Regions from separate parts of the Homo sapiens genome. Here region 1 is linked to region 2. The links come from fine-mapping of genetic effects on gene expression. A gene starts in region 2. The other region holds a variant in brackets. All regions are shown on one strand. Distances are from middle to middle.

Region 1 (12,440 bases), 37 kb before region 2:
ACCCCCAGCTGGCTTTCCTATAACGGCCATAAAGGGCTGGAAGCAGATTGGTGAGCACTTGTTTGTGCCAAGTGGTTCTTATGCCTGCCCTTATTTAATCCTCACAATGGCCCTGCATGGTTGATGTTCCCATCCCCATTTACAGGTGAAAAAACTGAGAAGCAGAGGCAAGAAGTCTCTCAGGGTCACACAGTGAACCAGTGGAGGAGCAGGAATTGGACCCCATTCCAAAGCCACAGGGCTTCCTGGGGCCTGGTGCAGAGAAGCAGAACTGCCCATGTCAGTAGCAGGTCCCTTGAGCTCTGCCCTGAAGCCTCCACAGAAGAACCCAAGTTGGAACCTCCAGGCACCAATTCATCCCCCATCTTGCCTTGATTTCCTGACTGTTCTTGTCCACATCCACAGAGTTGTCGTCCAGGGAGTTGACGCTGTAAGAGAGGTGATGGAGCTCAGGTGTTGGCAGGCCCAGTCCTCCCTTACTGTGCCCAAGAACCACCACCTCCATCACCACCATCACCATCACCACGACTACCACCATCATCACCATCACCACCACCACCATCATCACAACTACCATCATCACTACCATCAGCACCATCACCATCACCTCAACACCAACACCACCACCACCACTATCATCATAATCACTATCACCACCACCATCACCATCACCTCAACACCAACACCACCACCACCACCGTCATCATCCATCATCACCACCATCACCATCACCTCAACACCAACACCACCACCACCATCATCATCATAACCATCACCACCACCATCACCATCACTACCATCACCATCACCACCATCACCTCAACACCAACACCACCACCACCACCATCACCATCACCACCATCACCATCACCACCATCATCACCTCAACACCAACACCACCACCACCATCATCATTGTCATCATCACCATCATCACCACCATCACCATCAGCACCATCATCACCTCAACACCAACACCACCACCACCATCATCATTGTCATCATCACCATCATCACCACCATCACCATCACTACCATCACCATCACCACCACCATCACCACCACCACCACGATAACTGCCACCACTACCATGACCACCATGACCACCACCATCACCATTGCCACCACCATCACCCACCACCACTACCATCACCACCATCACCTCAACACCAACACCACCACCACCACCACCGTCATCATCACCATCATCACCACCATCACCATCACAACCATCACCATCACCTCAACACCAACACCATCATCACCACCATCACCATCACAACCATCACCATCACCTCAACACCAACACCATCATCACCACCATCACCATCACAACCATCACCATCACCTCAACACCAACACCACCACCACCACCACCATCGTCATCATCACCATCATCACCACCATCACCATCACAACCATCACCATCACCTCAACACCAACACCATCATCACCACCATCATTGTTGTCATCATCACCACTGTCACCATTGCTACCATCACCATCACCTCACTACCATCACCACCACCACCATAACTACCACTACTACCATGACCACACCATCACCATTGTCATCACCATCATCACCACCAACACCATCACCACCACCACCGTCACTACCTGTACCACCACCACCACCTAGCCTGGCTGTGAGGGGCACTGCTCACCTGACAGAGTCCAGGTCATTGGAGGGAGAGAGGTACTCCAAGCCCAGGTCTTTGTTGGGGAGGTTCAGCATGGGGTTGGCTCTGGAGAGAAAGCCTGGTCAAGTTGCCTGGCCCTCAGCCACCCCACCAGGCCTCTTACCTACCCTTTGACCCCTGCTCACCGCTCAGTGTTGTACATGTTAGTCCCTGGGATGGCAGGGGCTGAGGGCATCACCCCTGCTGCTGTCTTCCTGGCCTCCTTGGCAGCCTTCATAGCTTGAAGCTTCCGGTTGTAGCTGTGGGGAACCGGAAGAGGGGTCACACTGTTGCTGCACACCTGTTGTGTCCCCAGTGGAGGCCCTGAGCCTGTGGCTTCACAAGATCCCGGGAGGTGAGTGTTAGCTCTATTTTACAGAGGGTAGAAGTAAGAGCCAGAGAAGGCAAGTGATTTGCCAAAGGTCAAATAGCCAGTGACAAGGCTTGAAGTCAAGCCCAGATACGGCTGCTGACTCTATACATGTTGGAAAAAGCAGCAGCATCTATTAAACGCATAGTGTGTGCCAGACGTCTAGCTGGGTGTGAGATGCATGTTACTTCCTTGAGTGCACTGAGGAATCAAGTCTCATGCCCTTTCACAGATAAGGAAACTGAGGCCCGTGGAGGGGAGGTGACTCACCCAAGATCTCGCACTGGGTCACTGGGGAGTGAATGCATGTATACCTGTGCCTAAGCCCCAGCTCCTTCTACCCCTACCCCCCGACGTCTTGGGTGGTGGGAGAGGGTGAAGGTTGGAGACACGGGGGCAATGGGAGCCGCACCTCTTCCGCACACACACGAAGGCCATGGTCATGATCACAAGGACCAGCAGCAAAGCCACTCCCAATCCTATGATGACACTGATGAGCTGTTTCGACAGGTCTGACTCCTGGCTCTCCTGGGAGCCCTGGAGAAAGATGAGTGTGAGGGAAGCACACTCGTCTTCAGCAGCCCCACCTGCTGCCCCGCCCTGCCCGCACTCACCAGCACCACCAGCCCCAGCTGCAGCAGCTGCGTCAGCGAGTCCTGATCATTCCGGATCATCCTGGCCACAGAACTCCACTTAGGCCCGAGGGACCTTGGCACACCCCAGGCTTCCTGCTCACCCTCACACCTGCCCCAAGGGCAGCCCCACTCACACACTCAGCTCATCAAGGGTCAGGGCTGACCCATTGGGGAAGACAAAGTAGGCATCGAGGTAGGAGTGAGGTCGGGCCCTGGAGCGGGACAGAGTTGAAGAGTCAGGAGCCTGGATCACCCAGCAGGCCCCTCCTGCTACCGCTTCTCCCCCTCAACCCCACCCCCAGGCCTCTGGGCACTCACCGAGCTGCAGAATCTATGTCCTGAATGTCCACAATGTATACTGTAGTCCTGGTTGCCTGGGTAAGAGCCCTGCAAAGAAGGCAGATGTCACAGAGGCCTGGGGTCTTAGCCTGGGCCTGTGGCCAGGGCTGTGCCAGTGGGATTAAGAATTGTATGAGTGAGAAAGGGCACCTCCTCTGGACAGCTCTGTTGGCTGAGTAGGTAGCATCTCTGTGAAAATTACAAAAGGAAATCCCTTCCTCTGGGGCTGGGTGAATAGCTTAGCAAGCAGAGTGCCCTTGTGCAACACACAGCCTTCACAACTGTACACGGCAGCCTTGTTCCAAGGCTTCCCTCTGCCCTTGGCTGGGTATGGGCTTCTGGGGACATGCAAGAACGTCGTGCAGGTGAAAGTACAGGGTTGAAGACAGGGACAAGGTCAAATGTGGGTCAGGAACAGGATTGAGAGACATCCCATCCAGGTTTTGTCGGGGACCAGGCTCCTACACCCTGTTCTTCCTACCCCTCCCTCCGGGGCTCCCCAGACCTACGCATTAATCGCCTGTCTGTTGGCGCCCACCTCCTCCTTCGGTGTGGAGAACTGCAGCCGCGAGCGGTAACTCTGGTCCACGGTGAAGAGCTGGGAAGGGGGTGTGCAGGAGATGAGGCACCAGGGACCCTGGGGGCTGGCAGAGGGCGTTGGGGGCTGGAGGTGGGACCAGCACTCACATTCAGGGTGGTGGTGGCTTCCAGGAAAGGACCCAAGGAAGGTCTGTCCCTGGCCTGGACTGTCACTTGGTAGGTGCCTTGGAGAGTGGAGTCGAGGCTGGTCACCGGCCTGCGGAAGGCGGGAGGCGCAGGTCAGTCTTGGAACCCAAGCTGAATCCTCAGGACCCTTGTAACCTCCAGGATGGGGGACTTGCTGCCTGAAAGCTCCTATCGGGCCCCTCCCCGCAACCTCCCTCCCGGGGCCGCCCGCAGTTACTGAATGCTCCCAGCGAACACGTCGGCCTCGGAGGAGGTGAAGATCGAGAAGACACCCTGGAAAGGGATGGTGGCCCCGTCCTTAGAGATGAAGTCTACTCGGAGGATGGAGAACAGGATGACGCCATTGTTCCCTGAATCATCGTCTCTGGCCTGGGAGCAAGAGTGGACAATATCTGGGGGCCCAGCCAGGCCAGGCATCCCTCCACCCCAGCAGGGATCAGAGGCAAGGGTGGCCTGGGAGGCTGGCCCTCACCGTCTCTATCCGCCATCCCCACGCTGCCCCGAATAAGCAAATGGTTTCAAAAAACAGTGTGTCTGCTCTGCAAATCCAGATTTGGACAAGAACCTGCCCCTGTTCCCCAACTC[C/T]AAACAGATCACTGCCCTAAGTCCCTCACATGTGGAAATCCTGCCCTGCTCCCCCTACACCCCTCCACTGCCATACTCTCTCTCTCTCTCACACACACACACTCACACACACAGTCTCTCTCACATACACACCCTCTCACACACACACACTCTCACACACTGTCCCACTCACACTCAGTCTCACCCTAACACACACTTACACACATATGCACACACACTCATACACACCCTCACACACACTCTCACACACTGTCCCACTCACACATACACTCACTCACCCTAACACACTCACACACATGCACACACTCATACACACCCTCACACACTTATCCTCTCACACTCACATACACTCACACACCCTCTCACACTCACACACTTATCCTGACACACACACTCACACCCTCACTCTCTCATGCACTCACCACACACTCAATTCACACACACTCACACAAATACACTCAATTCACACACATTCACACACTTGCACAGTCACACACATACACACCCACAATCACCTACATACCCACACACTGTCACACACATTCACATACACTCACTCACCCTTATACACACCCTCAGGCACACACATTCACACTTAGACACACACACACTGGCGTGCACACACACAGCGATGCTCAGATTTCCTAAGCACCTCCCCTGGGATCCCTCATTTCCGTGCGGGGAGTACCAATTCCCCTAGTAGACCATGAAGCTGGTTGGGGAGGGGACACAAGCATTTTTATTCATTCTAGTGCCTTTTAGAGAAAAATTTAACCAGCACACAGAGCTTCGAGTTCACCAACGTTACTGTTAAGGATAGGCCAACACCAGTGCTTAGGTCTTAAAAAGGAATCTATTTAAAGAAAATTGCCGTGGCTAAACTCTTGACATTAGAACCAAATTGGCAGAAGATTGGGAAGCTGTCTTAAGACTTGAAAGTCACACAGTCACTGTCTCTAGCATGAACGTCAACCTAGAGAGGGAGAATTACTATCCCCATTTTACAAGAGGAAGCTGAGGCTCCGAGAGACCCTGTCCTTACACTCGGCTCTAAGTGGGGAAGGCCAGCCCTGTCCATCTCTTGTACCCATGTCCTTTCCAAAGCATAGGGAATGGCACCCACATGCCACCTTCTGGGAACTGCTAGCTTCTTGTTGAACAGGGAAACGGAGTCCCAGAGAGGGTAGGCAGCTCTCCAGGTCAGTAAGAAGCCCAGCCAGGCCCAGCCCTCGGTGGTGTGGGAAGCCTCATCCCCACACGGCATGGCCACCACCCCTAATAAACTTGCCACATCCAACACCATAAACAGCTGAAAGCCTTTTTATGACTTGGCTCCAATAATTTATTTATTTATTTATTTTTTTTTGAGGCAGAGTTTCACTCTTGTCGCCCAGGCTGGAGTGCAATGGCGTGATCTCGACTCACCGCAACCTCCGCCTCTCGAGTTCAAGTGACTCTCCTGCCTCAGCCTCCCAAGTAGCTGGGATTACAGGCATGCACCACCACACCCAGCTAATTTTGTATTTTTTAGTAGAGATGGGGTTTCTGCATGTTGGTCAGGCTGGTCGCAGACTCCCGACCTCAGGTGATCCACCTGCCTTGGCCTCCCAAAGTGCTGGGATTACAGGCTTGAGCCACCGTGCCCAGCTGGCTCTGAGAATTATTTAATGACAAGGCACTGGCTTAATTTACAATTAGCTATGAGTTCTCTGTATTACTCAAGAATTCTGGTATAGTAAGAAATATCTGGACTGCAAGTGGTATTTACGGTCATGACATTTTTATGAATGCTACATTTATCACAGTGAAGTTTGATTACATTGATTAGACAGGTGTTGGTTTCCCTTCTGGGGTTTTCTTTTTCATGTGTTGGAGCCCATATATTTTCTTTCTACCATGGAAGGCCTGAAGGCCTCAGCCCTGTGTCCCCTGGGGCTCATATGACCAACAAAGGCTGGAGCCAAGAACTTACCCGGACAGAAGCCACCTCCCGGTTGGGCAGCACGAGTTCAGGGATGATCACTGCAGGTGTGAACGGGAACGGGGTCAGCGGGGTCGGGACACTGCCCACCTGGACCAAGGCTGGTCACGAGCCCAGCTCAGGGCTCATCCCCCTAAACCTGCCCTCAACCTCTCTACCAAAAGAGACCCCTATTACAGCCACCACTGGGCCAGTAGTTAGCAAGTCATCCACCTCCCATTGTCACAGGTGAGGTCACAGGCCCACAGGACCATGCGGAAATGGAGGCCCAGAGAGGGAAGTCCTGGCCCAGGGCCAGACATTAGGTCGGACAGAGCTGGAATGAAAACTCCAGTGTTGGCTGGGCATGGTGGCTCATGCCTATAATCCCAGCACTTTGGGAGGCCAAGGCGAGCAGATCACTTGAGGCCAGGAGTTCAAGACCAGTCTGGCCAACACAATGAAACCCTGTCTCTACTAAAAATACAAAAATTAGCCAGGTGTGGTGGCGCATGCCTGTAGCCCCAGCTACTCTGGAGGCTAAGGCATGAGAATTGCTTGAACCTGGGAGGCGGAGGTTGCAGTGAGCTGAGATCGTACCATTGCGCTCCAGCCTGGGCGACAGAGCAAGACTCCGTCTCAAGAAAAAAAGGAAAGAAAAAAGAAAACTCCAATGTCCTCTCCTATTGCAGCCCTAGGAAGATGCAGGATTAGAGGCCTTCCCCCCTTTCTAAAGGCTCCCCCTGGGGTCCAAGGAGGGTCTGTCGGGGTTGCTCAAAGGCGGCCTTATGGAGCAGGGGTATGGTGTGTGAATGGGGTTGCTGCTTACCAAAAGTCTTATTCTCAGGCAGAAAATAGGGTGCATTGTCATTCACGTCCTCAATGGTAATGAGGAGGCTTCCTAGGAGACAAGGTCAGCTGGCTTTGGCTCTGGGCAAAAGCTTGACCCAAAGAGCCTGGGCCTCAACCCTGTGCCCCACAGCCTCAACCCCATGCCCCGCAGCCTCAACCCCGTGCCCCGCAGCCTCAACCCTGTGCCCCGCAGCCTCAACCCCGTGCCCCGCAGCCTCAACCCCATGCCCCGCAGCTTCTCTCCCATGTGTTCCCCCATGCTCAGTCCCCTTCCCTGCTCCTGACCCAGAATGCCTGATCGGTCTTCTCTGGCCTGTGTGGGTGGGAGTATCATCCCAGACCTCAGAGCAGATAAGCAGCTTGTCAAAGTCACACAGCAATAGTGGTGGGCCAGGATTGGGCCCAGCCTAGGTAGATCTCACCTATGACATTATACTGACACATTCTAACTATATAAGCTGGTTGTTTAAATACCCACTTTCTGCCTCAGTTTCCTCATCTATAAAATTGGATAGGGAACACCTACCCCATGGGTTGTGTGGAAGTGGAAAAATTCTTACAAGGTGCCTGGTGTAGTTCTTGGCTGTCATAAGGACTCAATATATGCTAGTTGTTAATGTGATTATTATTGCTATTTGGTGTCAGAAGTGGGATACAAGCACACATCTAGCTCTGCAGTGTTATCTTTCTTTCACAGCATCTTGTAAAATAATGGCATTAATTTGATGCTACTGCATGCCAGGCACTGCAATAAATGCCATACATCCATATTCTCATTGAATCTTCACAGCCCACCCCACTGCCCAACTCCACTGGACAGATGGGGAAACTGAAGCTTGGAGAGGGTTTGGGACTTTCCCAGTATTTGCAGCTGGAAAGGGCTGGAGCCAAGATCTGAGCCCAGACCTTGTGAGTTCCAGCCCAGGGCTCCTTCCCGCGGCCCCTAAGCTATGGCCTGCCAAGCCCTGCAAGGACAGGCTGCCTTACCATTGTTGCTGTAGGCCTGGAAGCCGGGGTCCGTGGCTAGGTCACAGGCCCGCACAACCAGCGTGACCAGGTCACAGGCCTCGTAGTCGATGGCTTTGCTCTGGTTGATGTACACAGAGCCGTTGGCCGCCACTGAGAACCAGCCCCAGCATAGGCTGCCCACATCGACCCCGGCCTTGGTGCAGAGAATGTTCACAAGCTGTATCTCCAGCTGGGCACTGGTGTCCACATCCGAGGCAACCACCACAGCCACCTGGCCGTGCTGTGAGCCATTCTCAGCCACACGGATGCCCCGGAGTGAGGCTACATCCAGGGTGGGGGGATTGTCGTTCACGTCTTTCACATTCACGCAGACGTCTACTATGGTCTCACCCCCCTGGGGGTCTGGGTTCTCAGCACTCACTGTCAAGTTGAAGACGGGCTGTGTCTCGTAATCCAGGCTCACGTCCGGGGGCAGCCGGAGGTAGCCCTCAGCCCACCCAGCCCCCAGCACCAAGCCTCGGATCATGAAGTAGTTGGCACCACTCCCCGACAGGCTGAAGCTGATGCGGTTGTTGGCTTCCGTCTGGTCCGCGTCCCAGGCCTTCACCACGCCCACTAGCACTCCTGTGGACAAGGGGCAGAGCTCAGAAGGACTCCTGACCCCGCCATCGGAAGCCTCCTCTGCCCTTGCCTCTCTTGGAACTCGAGGTCCACCCTGACAAAGCCACACTGGGTCCCAGCCGCAGTGTCTCTCCTGGCCCAGGGAGCACATACCTGGATCCTCCTCCTTCACCGTAAAGTTGTAGCTGGACTGATTGAAGATGGGCAGGTTATCATTGATGTCCTGCAGTCAGAGACAGGTCTGAGTCCCCGGGATCCAATCTCACCCTCCCCAGAGCCAATCCGAGAAACCAATAATCCCTGTGCTCCAAGGCATGGACTCTACTAGTGCCTCAGACCTCACTGCCCACTTCCCAGATGAGGAGACAGGCTCTGAGAGGAGGGAACTTGCCCAGGTCACACACCCGGGGTTCAGGGACCTACAGTGGGACCTTGGCCTTACACATCCATCCTCAGGAAGCCCTGCTTGCTTCCTGTTTCTCTGACCACAGCTCAGGACTTGTTCTAGACCCTGCTTTCTAGAAGCACAGTTCTGGGTCCCCACCTGCGACCCTGCCTGGCCCAGCTTGACTCCCATCTCTCGGATTTATTGTGTTGGCACCAATACCATTATATGTCCACAAAGGCTCCAAGGCCCACACTTTCCCTTGTCCCCTCCTACCCCTGTCCCTCCTGCACACAACTGAGCCCACAACACCAGCTCTGTGCTCAGTCAGAGCTGGGCTCCGGGGACCTGCAGAAGCTTAGACCTGCTCCTGCCTCAGACACCAGCTGTTTTTGGCTCTCACCTCTGTGGCCAGCCCTAGCCCACTGGGCACAGCTGGAGCCCTGCAACTATTGTCACAGCCTGGAGGTGACTCTGCCCTCCCCTATGTCTCCTAACACTGGCATGTGCTTGGGGGATGCCCTGAGCACTCCAGCCCTTCCCAGGTTTGTGGGTCACATAACAGGTGTTTGTTTTTCTGAATAACCCTAGAATGAACATTTGGAAGACAACATTCTTGCACCTTAGCTAGATGTCTTTTCTGCTGCTAATTTCCCAGCGATGACATCATTGGCTCCACGCACAAGACCAGCTGCATTCTCAAGGTCACCCTAACTCACAGGAGTGGATAAGAGCACTGAGTCACATCTTGCTCCACCTCTGCCTCATGTGTGACCTTGACCTCTCTGGACCTCAGTGTCCTCATCTGCAAAATGGGGTAGTAGTCCCCACTAATAGGGCAATTGTGAGGACGGCTCACAGGGGTGAAGAAACCTGTTCACTCAGGAAATGAAGTTCTCTCTTTGCAGCCCTCCCACCCTAAGGACAACCAGCAAGTCCTCATTCTGCTTCGTTTTCTTCATTTCTGAGGTCTCACTCTCTGACCCTTGTGTGAAAATGGCACATCCCAGTCCAGGGGACACAGGGCTGCTATGTGCAGTGGTGCAGGCTGTGCACTGCACAACCCTATGGGGTGCCATCCACATCACAGACACGGCAGAGGTGCACATTTGTCACAATACTGTTCCAGAGGAAGGTGCCTTGTGGGCTGGTGGCAGCCTTAGAACCAGACTGATTGAAGTCAAAACCCAATTTTGTGACCCCCAGGCAAGGTACTGAACCTCTCTGTGCCTCAGTTTCTTTTTTTGAGACAGGGTCTTGCTCTGTCTCACAGGCTGGATTGCAGTGGCATGATCATAGCTCACCGCAGCCTCAACCTCCTGGGCTGAAATGATCCACCTGCCTCAGCCTTCCAAGTAGCTGGGACTTCAGGTACATGCCACCATGCCTGGCTAATTTTTTATTTTAGTAGAGATGGGGTCTCGCTATGTTGCCCAGCCCAGTCTCAAACTCCTGGGCTCAAGCAATCCTCTCACCTTGGCCTCCCAAAGTACTGAGGTTTTTGGCATGAGCCACAGCAACTAGGCCCGCCTCAGTTGCTCAATCAATAAAACGGTAATAAACCGGGCTCAGTGACTTATGCCTGTAATCCCAGCATTTTGTGAGGCTGAGTTGAGAGGGTCGCTTGAGGCCAACAGTTCAAAATTGGCCTGGACAATAAGTGAGACTCTGATTCTATGAAAAATAAATTTTAAAAATTAGCCAAATTAGCCAGGCATGGTGGCACGCATCTTTAGTCTTAGCTACTTAGGAGGCCAAGGCGGGTGGATCGCTTGAGCTCGGGAGTTCAAGACCAGCCTGGGCAACATGGAAAAACCCCATCTCTACAAAAATAAAAAAATTAACCAGGCATGGTGGCATATGCCTATAGTCCCAACTACTCAGGAGGCTGAGGCAGGAGGATCGCTTGAGCCTGGGAGGTTGAGTCTGCAGTGAGCCATGATGGCACTATTGCACTGCAGCCTGGGTGACAAAGGGAGACCCTGTCTCAAAAATAAATAAATCAATAGATAAATAAATAAAAACAAAATGGTAATAACCATCCCAACCTTGGCGGATGCCCTGATGTGCAATAGACACCAGCAATGCTGATTTTCACCCCTTCCCTTTGCTTTTCAATGGTGGCAGGGAGACAGGAGGGTTTCAGGTGGGACTTTATGAGTGACAATTAGAGCTGATATTCACTGATACTGTCTATAGGTCAGGCACTCTACCAAGCACTTTCCATTCATTAACTCACTTAATCTTTAACCTTTTTCACCCCCGTTTTATAGATGAGGAGCCTGAGTGCCTAGGGAGGTTGAGTAATTGCCTGGGGCCATACGAGTGAGCGGGATTGTAACCCAGGCAGGCTGGCTGCAGAGGGCAGAAGTGTGACTCAAGCTGGAGGGGCTGGCTATCGGCTTGGGAGGCCCCCAGGCCCATCCTGGCTAAGCGAGGCCTTACCTCCACAGTGATGGTGACATTGACTTTGGTGCCGAGGACAGGCTCGCCGCAGTCAGACACAAGCACTGTCAGCACAATGCGGCCCTCCAGGGCGGGGTCGATGGCCTCTCTGTCCAGGGGCCCCAGGTTTCTGAGGAGCCCTGTGTCAGGGTCCAAGGAGAAGTTGTGGCTGTAGGGGCCAGGCAGCAGGTTGAAGAGCAGACGGCTGTTGTTGGTGCCCGGCTCATCATTGTCGTGGGCCTGTGCACGTAAGCAGGGGTTGGTCATCGGCCATCGGCATTCCCAGCCCCCAGCCCCTCCGATGCAGCCGGACCCTCCTCTCCAGCGCTGGCCCACGCAGGCAGTCATCAGGCCTGGAGCCCCTGGGCCCATCTCCCAGCCCCAGTTTCCCATCTAAGAGGCTCAGGTCAGCAGTTTGCAAGAGCTTCTGAGATCTTCAGCACTGAGGCCATTCTTTCATCTCACAAACGGCCACTGTGGACCTACGTGCCCAGCCCCGTTCCAGGTGCAAAGAAAGAATAGAGCCATCATCAAGACAGGCCCTTTTGCTACTGATATTCTAGCAGGAAGGGGGATATGGGGGCAGGAAATTGTAGACAAAGAAAGTTTTAAACTCATAAGTGTGAAGTCCAGCAAGATTCTCATTTTCCCATAATGACTACTTCAGTGCTATATACATATTTTTTCTTTTTTCTTTTTTCTTTCATACAGTTTCGCTCTTGTTGCCCAGGCTGGAGTGCAATGGTGCGATCTCTCTTGCTCACTGCAAACTCCTTCTCCTGGGTTCAAGTGATTCTCCTGCCTCAGCCTCCTAAGTAGCTGGGATTACAGGCACCCACCACCACACCAGGCTAATTTTTTGTATTTTTTAG
Region 2 (11,167 bases):
CAACCTCTGCCTCCCGGGTTCAACCGAGTCTGCTGCCTCAGCCTCCCGAAGGATTACAGGCGTGAGCCACCACACCTAGCTAATTTTTTTATTTTTAGTAGAGATGGGGTTTTGCCATGTTGGCCAGGCTGGTCTCGAACTCCTGACCTCAGGTGATCCACCCACCTCGGCCTCCCAAAGTGCTGGGATTACAGGCGTGAGCCATCCACTGCACTTGGCCCATTTCAGAGTTTTAAGCAGGGGAGTGGCAGGCAGTAATTTCCTCTTAAGACCTTTCTGGCTGCTGTGTGTCGCCGGGCTGAACTGGGGGCAGCAGGGCTGGAGGGGAGGCAAGAGCAGGGCTATAGTTTGGAGGCAGAATATTTGGGATTCATAGAATTTCATCTTCACAGCAACTCATTTTGCAGATGAGCAAACAGGCTCTTGCTGGGAGTGTTCCGCTGAGGCCCTCACAGCTGAAAGTGAGTGGGATTCACAGCCACTCTCCGATCCCAAGGCCCTCGCCTCTCCCTGAGGCAGGGAGAAGGAGGCAGGCCTCCCGTGGCCCCAGGGCCCTAGCAAGAGGAGAAAACCCCAGTTCAGATGTGGACCCCAAAGCTTCAAAATGTTTGCCCTGTTGACCTACTCATCCAACTAACATAGAATAAGAAGCTCTTTTTGCAGAAAGTTGTTGACCGTGAGTGATTATTTATAATCATGGGAAGCTGGAAGTGACCGTAACATGAAACACAGGCAATGATGTAGAAAGATGTGGACAAGCCCTGGGTGGGATGTTTGGCAACCGTTAAACATTACAGCAATGAATAGCAAGAGACTCGTGGAGGAAGCACCTCCTGCCTCTCAGAACTTGAGCCGGGCACTACGTAATGCTCACAAAATCCCTTCGAGGCTGGGTGTGGTGGCTCACACCTGTAATCCCAGCACTTTGGGAGGCCAAGGCGGGCAGATCACTTGAGGTCAGGAGTTCAAGACCAGCTTGGCCAACATGGTGAAACCCCGTCTCTACTAAAAATACAATAATTAGCTGGGTGTGGTGGCACGTGCCTGTAATCCTCAGGAGGCTGAGGCCAGAGAATGGTGTGAACCCGGGAGGTGGAGGTTGCAGTGAGCCGAGATCGTGCCACTGCACTCCAGCCTGGGAGACAGAGCGAGACACTGTCTCCAAAACAAAACAAAACAAAAACAAAAACAAAAAACCCTTCTAGATTGGTACCATTCTACCCACTTTACAGATGGGGAAAACAAAGCTCAGAGAGGTGAAGAGCCTGGCTTGAGTTTACAGAGTCAAGGAGCAGCAGAGCTTCGCTGGGCAGTTCACTGCCCTTCTCTAAGCGTTCCCTCCCCTGTGAGAATAATAACCCCACTAAGTGATGAGGGTAGGCAGCGGGGGATGAGTGGGAATAAGAATGTGCCACCTCAGCGCCTGGCACACAATAGGCGCTCAGCAAGTGCAAACCTTCTTCCTTCCGTGGGGTTGTCCTCACCTTATGGCTGCTCCTCCCACTGCAATCACCATGGAAACAGCTTCCTCCCTCCCTGGTGACCATCCACGCTCCCCAGGGTCTGAGACTGCTTGCAGAGGTCAGAGCTAAATGGGCAGGGCCAGGGCTGTGTGTGGAGGAGCCCTGGGGCTGTTTCTCATGCTACCTTCCATGTGACTCTAGCCAGGGGAACCTTGGGAAGTTGCTGTGGAAAATGCTGGCTTGCCAAGAACCCCGGAGATGACAGCTGGGGACAGCCCACATGCTGAACGGCAGGGCTGCACTCAGCCAGACTGATAAATACAGATGTGCCCCACCGCTCAGGGGAATTAGTAAGTTCTCAGTCCTCAGAACCCCCAGCAGTGCTGAGCCACAGTCCTCAGTGAGACAGGGACAGCGATGTGGGTACAGCTACACCCTGGAGAGTGACATCATAGCGCTGGAGTCAAGGGCAGTGAGTGAGGTGGTCATGGAGGCAGGGTCCAATATCAGGATAGGGATCCCTCGGGGGTAGGGGTGGCACTGGTGGTGGTAAGTAGGGACGGACATGCTGATGATGTGTGTGCTGATGAAGGTGGAGACGCAGGTGGCGCTGGTGGAGGTGACAGTTGGGGGAGGGAGATGGTGGTGGTGGCGGGGCTGGCGGTGGAGACGCAGGTGAGCTGGGCATTAGCGGTACTGCTAGACTGCAGGTGTCCATTGTGTAAGGAACAGCCAGGGGCTGGATGCGTCCAGCCCAGGCATCCCTCTGAGGCTGTAACCTGGAACCTACCTCCCTCCTCACTTTTTTCTCTCATGTTCTGTCCTTCAGAAATGAGTCAACTGCCACGGGACAATTAGTCACTAGGTGTGCAGCCAGCAGGTATCAAGATGGATTCATCATCATTACAAAGTTCCCCTGGGTCCAGCCTGCAGGACAGGAGATTCCTGCCCTCAGGGTCCCTCCTCCCAGTCCCAGAGGAAAATGGGAACTGGCAAGGAAGGGCCGTGTACCGAGGCTAGCACTTTGCCCCCATTACCATTTAGTCCTCAGCAAACTGACGTCCAAGAGGGGAAAGGGCGCGGCCCAGCCAGTAATGGGCAGAACCCAAGCCAGGCCTGTGCCTTCTCTCTTTTCTAGGCTCCTGGGTTTTCCTTCTTGAGCTGCCCGATTTTCCCACAGGTCATGCTGAGCCCACAAACATGTGATGTTGAGAGAGAACAGCCCGAACCAGGACCTTCACCCAGTCCCCGAGGCGCCTCCCCCTACAGCCCCTTCCCCATACACGCCACGCTTCTCCCTCATGGAAGTGTCTCCCAACTCCCCCCTCCCCATCTCACAGGGCAGGATGGAGGGCCTCAAGAAGCCTGGGGACCCTCACTCAGAGCAACAGCGATGCCCCTTTGCATTTGTGTGATGCACGCACAGTCTCTCCCCTGCATGTGGGCCCAGCCATCCCCCTGGAAGGAAGAGCTGGATTCATCAATCCCCTTTATGCACACAGACATGAGTGCAGGAGGCCAGGGTTCCTGCCCAGCAGCTCCAAGGCTGTCAGCGGCAGAGTGGGGGTGCCACCCTGTCTGCCTCCCAGGCCAGTGCTCTTTCTTGCCTCATCCCTGCCTCGCCTGCCTCCTGCTCTGCTGGGGTTGGCCCCGGGTTTCTCGCAGTCCTGCCTCCTCATGATCATGATGAGGCTGGCGTTCTACAGTCCAGAGCATCTGCCTCTGGATTCAGTCACTTGGGGAAAAAGCACAGTGTCTGTGTGGGCTGGCGAAGGCGCAATAACGGCCTGCCCCAATGCTAAGCCTTCCCCATGATAGGTCACTCCCAAGCTCAAATCTCCTCCATGGCTCCCACTGGCTGCAGGACACACTGCCTGCCCCTCAGCCTGACAGGCGAGGTCCTTGGAGGTCCTGGGTCTTGCTTTTTCCACACGAGCTGCTCTCTCCCACTCCTGAGGTCCAGTGGTGTTGAATGCTCCTGTTCTCGGTCCACACCCTGCATTGTCCTTCCTCCATTTGCCTAAACCATTCCCTCTGCCCAGAATGTCTTTCTTTGCCTTCTGCCTACATGCAAATCCTCTCCATTCTGTAAGGCCCAGATCAGCTGTGGAGCTGTGTTCAGGCAGTTGGTGGCCCCCACTCTGGGCTCCTCATTTCCTGGTACCCCAGCAAGGGGCAGGAGCAAGGCACAAATGGAAACCGAGTGAATGGAGTTGCCCCTGGGCTGGGACTTGCGGACAGGCACCCGCTTTTCCCTGCTGGGGCAGCCTCAGGCCAACGCATGGGTGTGAAACAAGGTCCCAGTCACTGCACAACCGTACCCCTGGGCTCTTTTCTCTGTTTGCTCCTTTTAAAAATGGGAACTATTAACCGGGCGCGGTGACTCACGCCTGTAATCCCAGCACTTTGGCGGGCCGATTACGGGGTCGGGGTCAGGAGATCGAGACCATCCTGGCTAACATGGTGAAACGCCGTCTCTACTAAAAGTTCCCCAAAAAAAAAAAAAATATTAGCCAGGCGTGGTGGCGGGCGCCTGTAGTCCCAGCTACTTGGAAGGCTGAGGCAGGAGAATGGCGTGAACCCGGGAAGCGGAGCTTGCAGTGAGCCGAGATGCCGCTACTGCACTCCAGCTTGGGTGACAGAGCGAGACTCTGTCTCAAAAAAAAAAAAAAAAAAGAGAACTCTTGGCTAGGTGTGGTGGCAGTCCAGGCCAATACCAATAGTTCTCATTTTTTAAAGGAGCAAACACAGTCCAGCACTTTGGGAGGCTAGAGTGGGAGGATCACTTGAGCCCAGAAGGTTGAGGCTGCAGTGAGCCGAGATCGCGCCACTGCACGCCAGCCTGGGCGACAGAGCAAGACCTTGTCTCAAAAAATAAAAATAAAATAAAGTAATTTAAAATGGGGACTATCTATATTCCAGAAATTACTGCTTCCTTGTTCTCAAGCCCTCCGGCCACTACTGTTGTTTCCCTGCTCTCAAAAAATGCCTGGACCAGCCTGACCAACATGGTGAAACCCTGTCTCTACTAAAAATACAAAAATTAGCCAGGCATGGTGGCGCACACCTGTAATCCCAGCTATTCGGGAGGCTGAGGCAGGAGAATCACTTGAACCAAGGAGGCAGAGGTTGTGGTGAACTGAGATCGCACCACTGCACTGGAGCCTGGGCGACAAGCAAGACTCCATCTCACAAAAAAAAATTAGCCAGACGTGGTGGCGTGCACCTGTAATCCTAGCTAGTCAGGAGGCTGAGGCAGGAGAATCGTTTGAACCAGGGAGGCACAGGTTGCAGTGAGCCGAGATAGCGCCTTGCACTCCAGCCTGGGCAACAGAGTGAGAATCCGTCTCAAAAAGAAAGTGCTTAGGGAAGGACCAAAAAGGACACAGAGAAGAATCAGGGAGACTCTGGCCCCCACGCCATGAGATGTGTAGTCTCCAGGAATCCTCACTGGTCCCACCTGGCCCAGGAGGTGCCAGCTCTTCAGCCTTGGCTGAGAGGAGGCTTCAGCCGCATCTCAGAGCAGTCCACGGTGCCAAGATTTTCTAGAATTTGGAACCACTGGGAGTGAGGATACCCGGACTGCCCAGGACCTCCAGGAGGGTCAGGGTGGGGAGGTGGGTCCTCCTTCAGTGTGGGGAGCCCCCGGGGTGCACTCAGCCACGATGCTACAGAGCTCCCCCAGCACCGCCACCGCTACACGGCCAGCTCGCCATGCACTTTCACTTCTGCTTTTTCATTTACTTCTCACAGCTGTTCCCAAGCAGGAATTATCCTATCCTATTATTCCAAGGAAACCGAGGCTCATAGATGCCCAGAGATGGGTGAGCCAGGGGCAGCAGGTTAGACCCAGGCTGCCTCCAAATCCAGGGGTCCCTGGGCAAGCCTTGGTCTGGGCTCCGTTGATCCAGGAGGCCGTGCCTGCACCCACAGAGCGGACTCCAGCCGAGCCTGGGTGCCCGGAGCAAGGATGTGGGACCTGAGCACGCAGCTCCCCGCCACGGGCCCTCCCAGTGCCTATGGCCCAGGCCACCTGGCCCAGCAGACACATACAGACTCAAACAGCCCTGGGTTCAGATGGCAGCATTTCACATATTTGTTGTGCAACCCCAGGCAAGCCCTCTCCCCTCTCCAGGCCTCAGTTTCCCCTGCTGAGAAGCAGAGTGAGGATAAAAATCAAGGGGTCTACACACGGGCCATGACTTGTTTCCATCTGCCGGACCTCGGTGCTCACTGGGACCCTGCCTTGTGCCTGGTGCCCAACCCAGCACAGGCCTGCCTGAGTGACGCAGCATGGCCCCGACTCTCAGCTGGGTCACCACCTCCTCTACCAGGGCAGAGAGATGTGCAAGGCCCGGACTGGGCAGAGCTGGGGCCAGCCTGGGTCAGTCCCTGCCTGACACTTCCTAGCACTGGCTGAGGTGGCACTGGGCTCGGTCATAGGCCACATGCTCACCTTTGCCTCAGGGCTTTTCAGGCCCTTTCTGGAACTCTTCTCATCCCCATTTGATAAATGAGGAAACGGAGGCCCAGAAGAGTTAAGTAGCCCACCAAGGTCAGGGTGGAGCTGGGATGTGAACCGAGCAGCTGGGGTAAGAGCCCAGGTCAGCTTCCCCGTCCTCAACCCCTGAGCATCCTATGAAGGGGTCAGGCCAGTTACCTCGTTTCCCTGGGGTGCCTGCCTCCCTTCCATCCTCTGAAGAATCATCCCTTGAGGACTTGGATGGGAAGGGGGCCATCAGCCCCCAGGGAAGGAGGTATTATTATCCCATGTTTACCAAAGAAACAGGCCTCACAGCAGGCTGGGACCTGACCCGGCTCTGCCCCATCTAGCGTGTGACTTCCCCTGCCCAGCTTCAGGGGAGACTTTTAAAGACCCCCAAGCTTGCCTTGGCTCTAGGGATCCCCCCAACCCCCACATTTCTCTGGCCCAGAGACCCCCGATGAGCTGGATAGTCCCTACCTGTGTCCCCTTCGCCACGGAGGCGGCAGGCAGGCGCCGGACAGGCGCTGGCACACAGGTGGGCACCCTCTGCGGCCTGCAGCTATGTGGCCAGCAGACTTTGGCACCATCTCCACCTCCACTGAGCAATCATTAACCCTGCCAGAGACCACACCTCCCAGGAGGGGTCGACTCCTAATGAGGCAGAGTACAGCTGGGGGCGCCGGACAGGAGGAAGGGACCAAGGCGCCAGAGCTCCTGGCGCTCCTGGGGCTGGAGGCCCACACCACAGGAGAAGGGGCCTGGCCGACCCTGAGCCCAGAGGACCTGGGAACAAGGCCCAACACTGGGGCAGGCTGGAGGCGGGGACGGTGACAGTCAGAAGGTGATGCCAGAGCCCCCGTCCCCTCCCTGCTACGAGTCTTCAGTGACAGGGGATCTGTGGACAAGTGGGGGATTGAGTCAGGAGAGGGAAGTGGTAAAACAGTGTAACAATCAAACACTGTGTGGCCAGACCAGCCCCTGTGAGGTTCTCGTGGAGGACTGGGGGCTAGCTGAGCCTGGACAACCCACTTTCGAGCCTGTTGACACTGATCTCACCCCGCATTGAGACCCTCAAAAGGCATCTGCCCGTCCCCAGGGGCTTCATCCACTCCCAAGTTGCCTTTTTTTTTTAATTATTTATTTATTTTTGAGTCAGAGTCTTGCTCTGTCACCCAGGCTGGAGTGAAGTGGCACAATCTTGGCTCACTGCAATCTCTGCTTCCTGGGTTCAAGCAATTCTCCTACCTCAGCCTCTCGAGTAACTGGGATTACAGGCGTGGGCCTCCACACCCGGCTAATTTTTTTTGTATTTTTAGTAGAAACAGGGTTTCACCATGTTGGCCAGGCTGGTCTCGAACTCCTAACCTCAGGCGATCCGCCTGCCTCGGCCTTCCAAAATGCTGGGATTACAGGGATGAGCCACGGAGCTCGGCCCCCAGGCTGGCTTTAAGCGCTGCCCGATGTGGTGGCCTCCCGAAGGGGCTCAGCCACAAGTCCTTCTTATCCTCACTTTGGCCCAGCCATCACAGTTGACACAGAAAGGGGACCCTGGGCACAACTTTCTTAAGGCACACCACTGAGTCGTCACCATTGGGTGGCCCTCTTCTTGTGGGCAGAGGACATGTCTAATTCACAATAGATATATAGTCATGCACCATATATCTGTGTTTTGGTCAACAACGAACCACACATATAATAGCGGTCCCATAAGAGTATAATATCATCTTTCATGGCACCCTTTCTGTGTTTACATGCACAAATACTTACCCCTGTGTTACAGTTGCCTGCAGCGTGCGGTACAGTCCCAGGCTGCATAGGTTAGCAGCCCAGGAGCACAGGCGGTGGTATAGAGACTGGGTGTGTAGTAGGTGGTACCGCCTAGGTTTGTGTAAGTCACTGTGTGATGTTCACACAATGACGAAATTGCCTGATGACACATTTCCCAGAAGGTGTCCCCGTTGTTAAGGGTTGTGTTGACTGTATATCAGGCAGTTGCTATAGTCAGGCATTTTAATAGTTTGCTTCCCAACTCTCCAAATGTAAAACATAGTAACAAAATTTATACGCCACCAGCATAAAAAGAAGAAACCCAGATGAAGGGAAGTCAAGTGAGAAAAATAAGGGTAATCTACGCCTGAATTGAGGCCATAAAATACTTGTCTTGAGCTGGGGGCACTGCTGTGCACCTGTAGTCCCAGCTACTTGGGAGGCTGCAGCAGTAGGATGGCTTGAGGCCAGGATTTCTGTGCTGTAGGGCACTATGCTGATGGGGTGTCCACACTAAATTCAGCACTAATATGGTGAACCCCAAGGAGCAGAGGACCACTAGGTTGCCTCAGAAAGGCTGAACCAGCCCAGGTCAGAAACAGAGCAGGTCAAACTTCAGGTGCTGATCAGTAGTGAGACTGTGCCTATGAATAGCTACTGCACTCCAGCCTAGACAACAAGAGCTTCTCTCTCAAAAAATAAACAAATTATATATATATATATATTTGCCTTCAAGTTCTGGGTAATTGTAGAGATGGGTCATGAATCAGGTTCTGAGCTTCCCCCCAGGCAAAGAAAAAAGGGAATTGAGATCCATTGAGTCCAGCATCCATCCATTTTAAAACATTTGCATAGGCTGGTGGCTCGCGCCTGTAATCCCAGCACTTTGGGAGGCTGAGGCGGGTGGATCACCAGGTCAAGAATTCGAGACCAGCCTGGCCAAAATGGTAAAACCCTGTCTCTGCTAAAAATACAAAAAATAGCTGTGCACGGTGGCAGGTGCCTGTAATCTCAGCTACTCAGGAGGCTGAGGCAGGAGATTCACTTGAACCCGGGAGGCAGAGGTTGCAGTGAGCCAAGATTGTCCCACTGCACTCTAGCCTGGGTGACAGAGCAAGACTCCATCTCAAAAAAAAAAAAAAAGACCAAAAAGACCACTTTGCGTATAGCCAGGCTCTGGGAGCTATGATGCAGTTCTGAGTTTTGATACCCAAGAGGCTTTTCCTCTTTTTGAGAAGTGTTTCTGAGGAAAGGATGCTGCAGACACTGGGTAGCGCTCGATGCGACTATTACAATGCAGGGGTTAAGAGACCAGAGACCAGGCTCCTCTGGGGTCAGACTGCTGGGTTCAATTTTTTTTTTTTTTTTTTTTTTTTTTTGAGCACCATGTTGGCCAGGCTGGTTTCAAACTCCTGACCTCAGGTGACCCACCCGTGTCGGCCTCCCAAAGTACTAGGATTACAGGTGTGAGCCGCCCTGCCCAGCCACAATTTTTAATTTCATTTTATTTTTATTATTTTTTTTATCTACTGTATATTCACAATGGGTTCAATTTTGGCAGGGCAAGTTGCATAACCTCTCTAAGACGGTTTCCTTATCTGTAAGTTGCAGGTAATACATGATGCCTACCTGGGCAGGTGATGGTGAGGATGTAATGAAGTCACCCATTTGAAGTCCTGAGCACAATGCCCAACACAATAAGGTCTCAATGAATGTTAGTTTTCGTGGGGGCATGGTGGTGACTATTGCATTACTAATATCACCTCATTTAATCCTGCCAATAACTCCAGGGATGATTTTTTTCCCCATTACAGATGGGAAAATAGACCTTAGACAGATTAGATCACCACCCGAGATTACAGAAAGTGGCAGAACTGAGATATTAGCATATCTGTGCAACAATTCTTGCCCCTGACTTTCCTGCCACAGCCGTCAGATTCCTCTCTGAAGGAAGTAGGCACTAGTCATCGCTGGTGGCTTAACCAGTAAGAAGAGAGGCAGGTGACCCCACCCAAGGCTCCAGGCTCCCCGCTCTGCCTCAGACCATGGGAGTCAGCCTGGTCGCTCTGCTGTGCCCCAAATAGGGCAGACCCCAACCCAAGCCCCTGCCCCCTCTCCCTGCCCTTACGGCTGAGGCCGACAGCTCTGAGTCACTGCTCTGGTTGACAGAGGTGTGTCCTGGCCTGCCCAGACCTTTGGACCCATCACGATGAGGCACGTGTGGCCAGATGGTGCCCTGCCCATCTCGAGGGGCACCATCCACCTGCCACAAGGCAGCCTGGGAAGCACACAGGGATCTGGGCTATGACGATCCAGGTCCAGGTCTAGGTCCAGGGTTGGCTTCACGGAGCAGCAGGCAGCCAGGCAGAGTGGGACTAAGAGCCCAGGATATGGACTCAAGTGACCTGGGTCCTAATCCCCACCACCACTTACCTGCTGGGGGCTTGGGCAAGGTACACCACCTCCCACACTATTGGTGTCCTTGTCCAAAATGGGCCTAATGCAGACTCCACCTCATAGGCCTGTTCTAAGGAGTAATGATGTAATGCATGACAGCACTTAGCACAGAGTAAGTAATGGGGTGATGTGCACGAGGCGACAGTTTAGATACACATCAGGGTTCCTTCACAGCCACTGTCTGAAGTGTGTGCCTTAAAATTTTTTTTAATCAGAAAAACTTCTCGGCCGAGTGCGGTGGCTCACGCCTGTAATCCCAACACTTTTGGGACACTGAGGCAGGCAGATCACTTCAGGCCAGGAGTCCAAGACCAGCCTGGCCAACATGGTGAAACGTAGAACATGGTGAAACCCCATCTCTACTAAAAATACAAAACTTAGCCCAGCGTGGTGGCGTGCACCTGTAGTGCCAGCTGCTCAGGAGGCTGAGGCACAAGAATCGCTTGAACCTGGAGGTGGGGTGGGGGGAGATTGCAGTGAGCCGAGATTGCACCACTACACTCCTGCCTGGGTGACAGAGTGAGACTCTGTCCCCACCCCCCACAAAAAAAGAAAAGGAAAAAAGAAAACTTCTCATTACCTGTCTCTGCTATGTGCACCCACTGCATACTCAGAAATTTATCAAGTTGAAATCAAGCGTTAGCTTGCCCTGAAGTTAGGCAAGTCTCTCCTTCCCTCTGAGCCGCCATTTCTTTACCTGTAATACCTCTGACGCCCACCTAGTGCACAGCCTTAGAGGTGACCCGGAGAGTCTGGGCTGAGAGTGACTCTGGTGTGAATGCATTCAACCCCTCAACTTCCCAATCATCCCCGGAAGTTGCACTTTGCAGGGTACAAAGTCCCTTCGTTGCTCTTACAGACAAGGAACCAGCCCAAGAATATCCCCGTGATGTCACAGACTCACAGCCTCCCACCCTAGAAAGAACTCGGGGCTGGGCGCGGTAGCTCACGCCTGTAATCCCAGCACTTTGGGAGGCCGAGGCGGGCGGATCAC

Direction of the effects. Alleles are on the strand shown, and positions count from the first base shown. SD is a standard deviation of normalised expression in the study named.
For the expression in prefrontal cortex of the gene that starts at base 6,499 in region 2, T is the low allele of the variant in region 1 and C is the other (small effect, 0.34 SD a copy in GTEx).

What was found. PIP is the estimated chance that this variant, and not a neighbour inherited with it, causes the effect.
Region 1: its variant is the best candidate, but not a certain one, in a credible set for the expression of CDHR2 in prefrontal cortex (GTEx, PIP 0.68).

The regions. Positions count from the first base shown.
Region 1 is chr5:176,580,711-176,593,150 of GRCh38, reverse strand. CDHR2 (cadherin related family member 2) reads right to left here. Exons shown (of 32, transcript NM_017675.6): 17 at 11,569-11,808; 18 at 8,892-8,961; 19 at 8,136-8,741; 20 at 7,126-7,197; 21 at 6,309-6,358; 22 at 3,969-4,120; 23 at 3,713-3,821; 24 at 3,535-3,623; 25 at 3,005-3,073; 26 at 2,821-2,898; 27 at 2,666-2,726; 28 at 2,464-2,588; 29 at 1,828-1,941; 30 at 1,667-1,747; 1 more. Among named protein-coding and RNA genes, the nearest start is that of GPRIN1, 23 kb to the left of the region's middle. The variant C/T (reference allele first, on the strand shown) is at 4,337.
Region 2 is chr5:176,544,674-176,555,840 of GRCh38, reverse strand. CDHR2 (cadherin related family member 2) reads right to left here and starts at 6,499. Exons shown (of 32, transcript NM_017675.6): 1 at 6,427-6,499. It also overlaps the pseudogene RN7SL684P. RefSeq lists enhancers at 3,012-3,645, 5,294-6,227.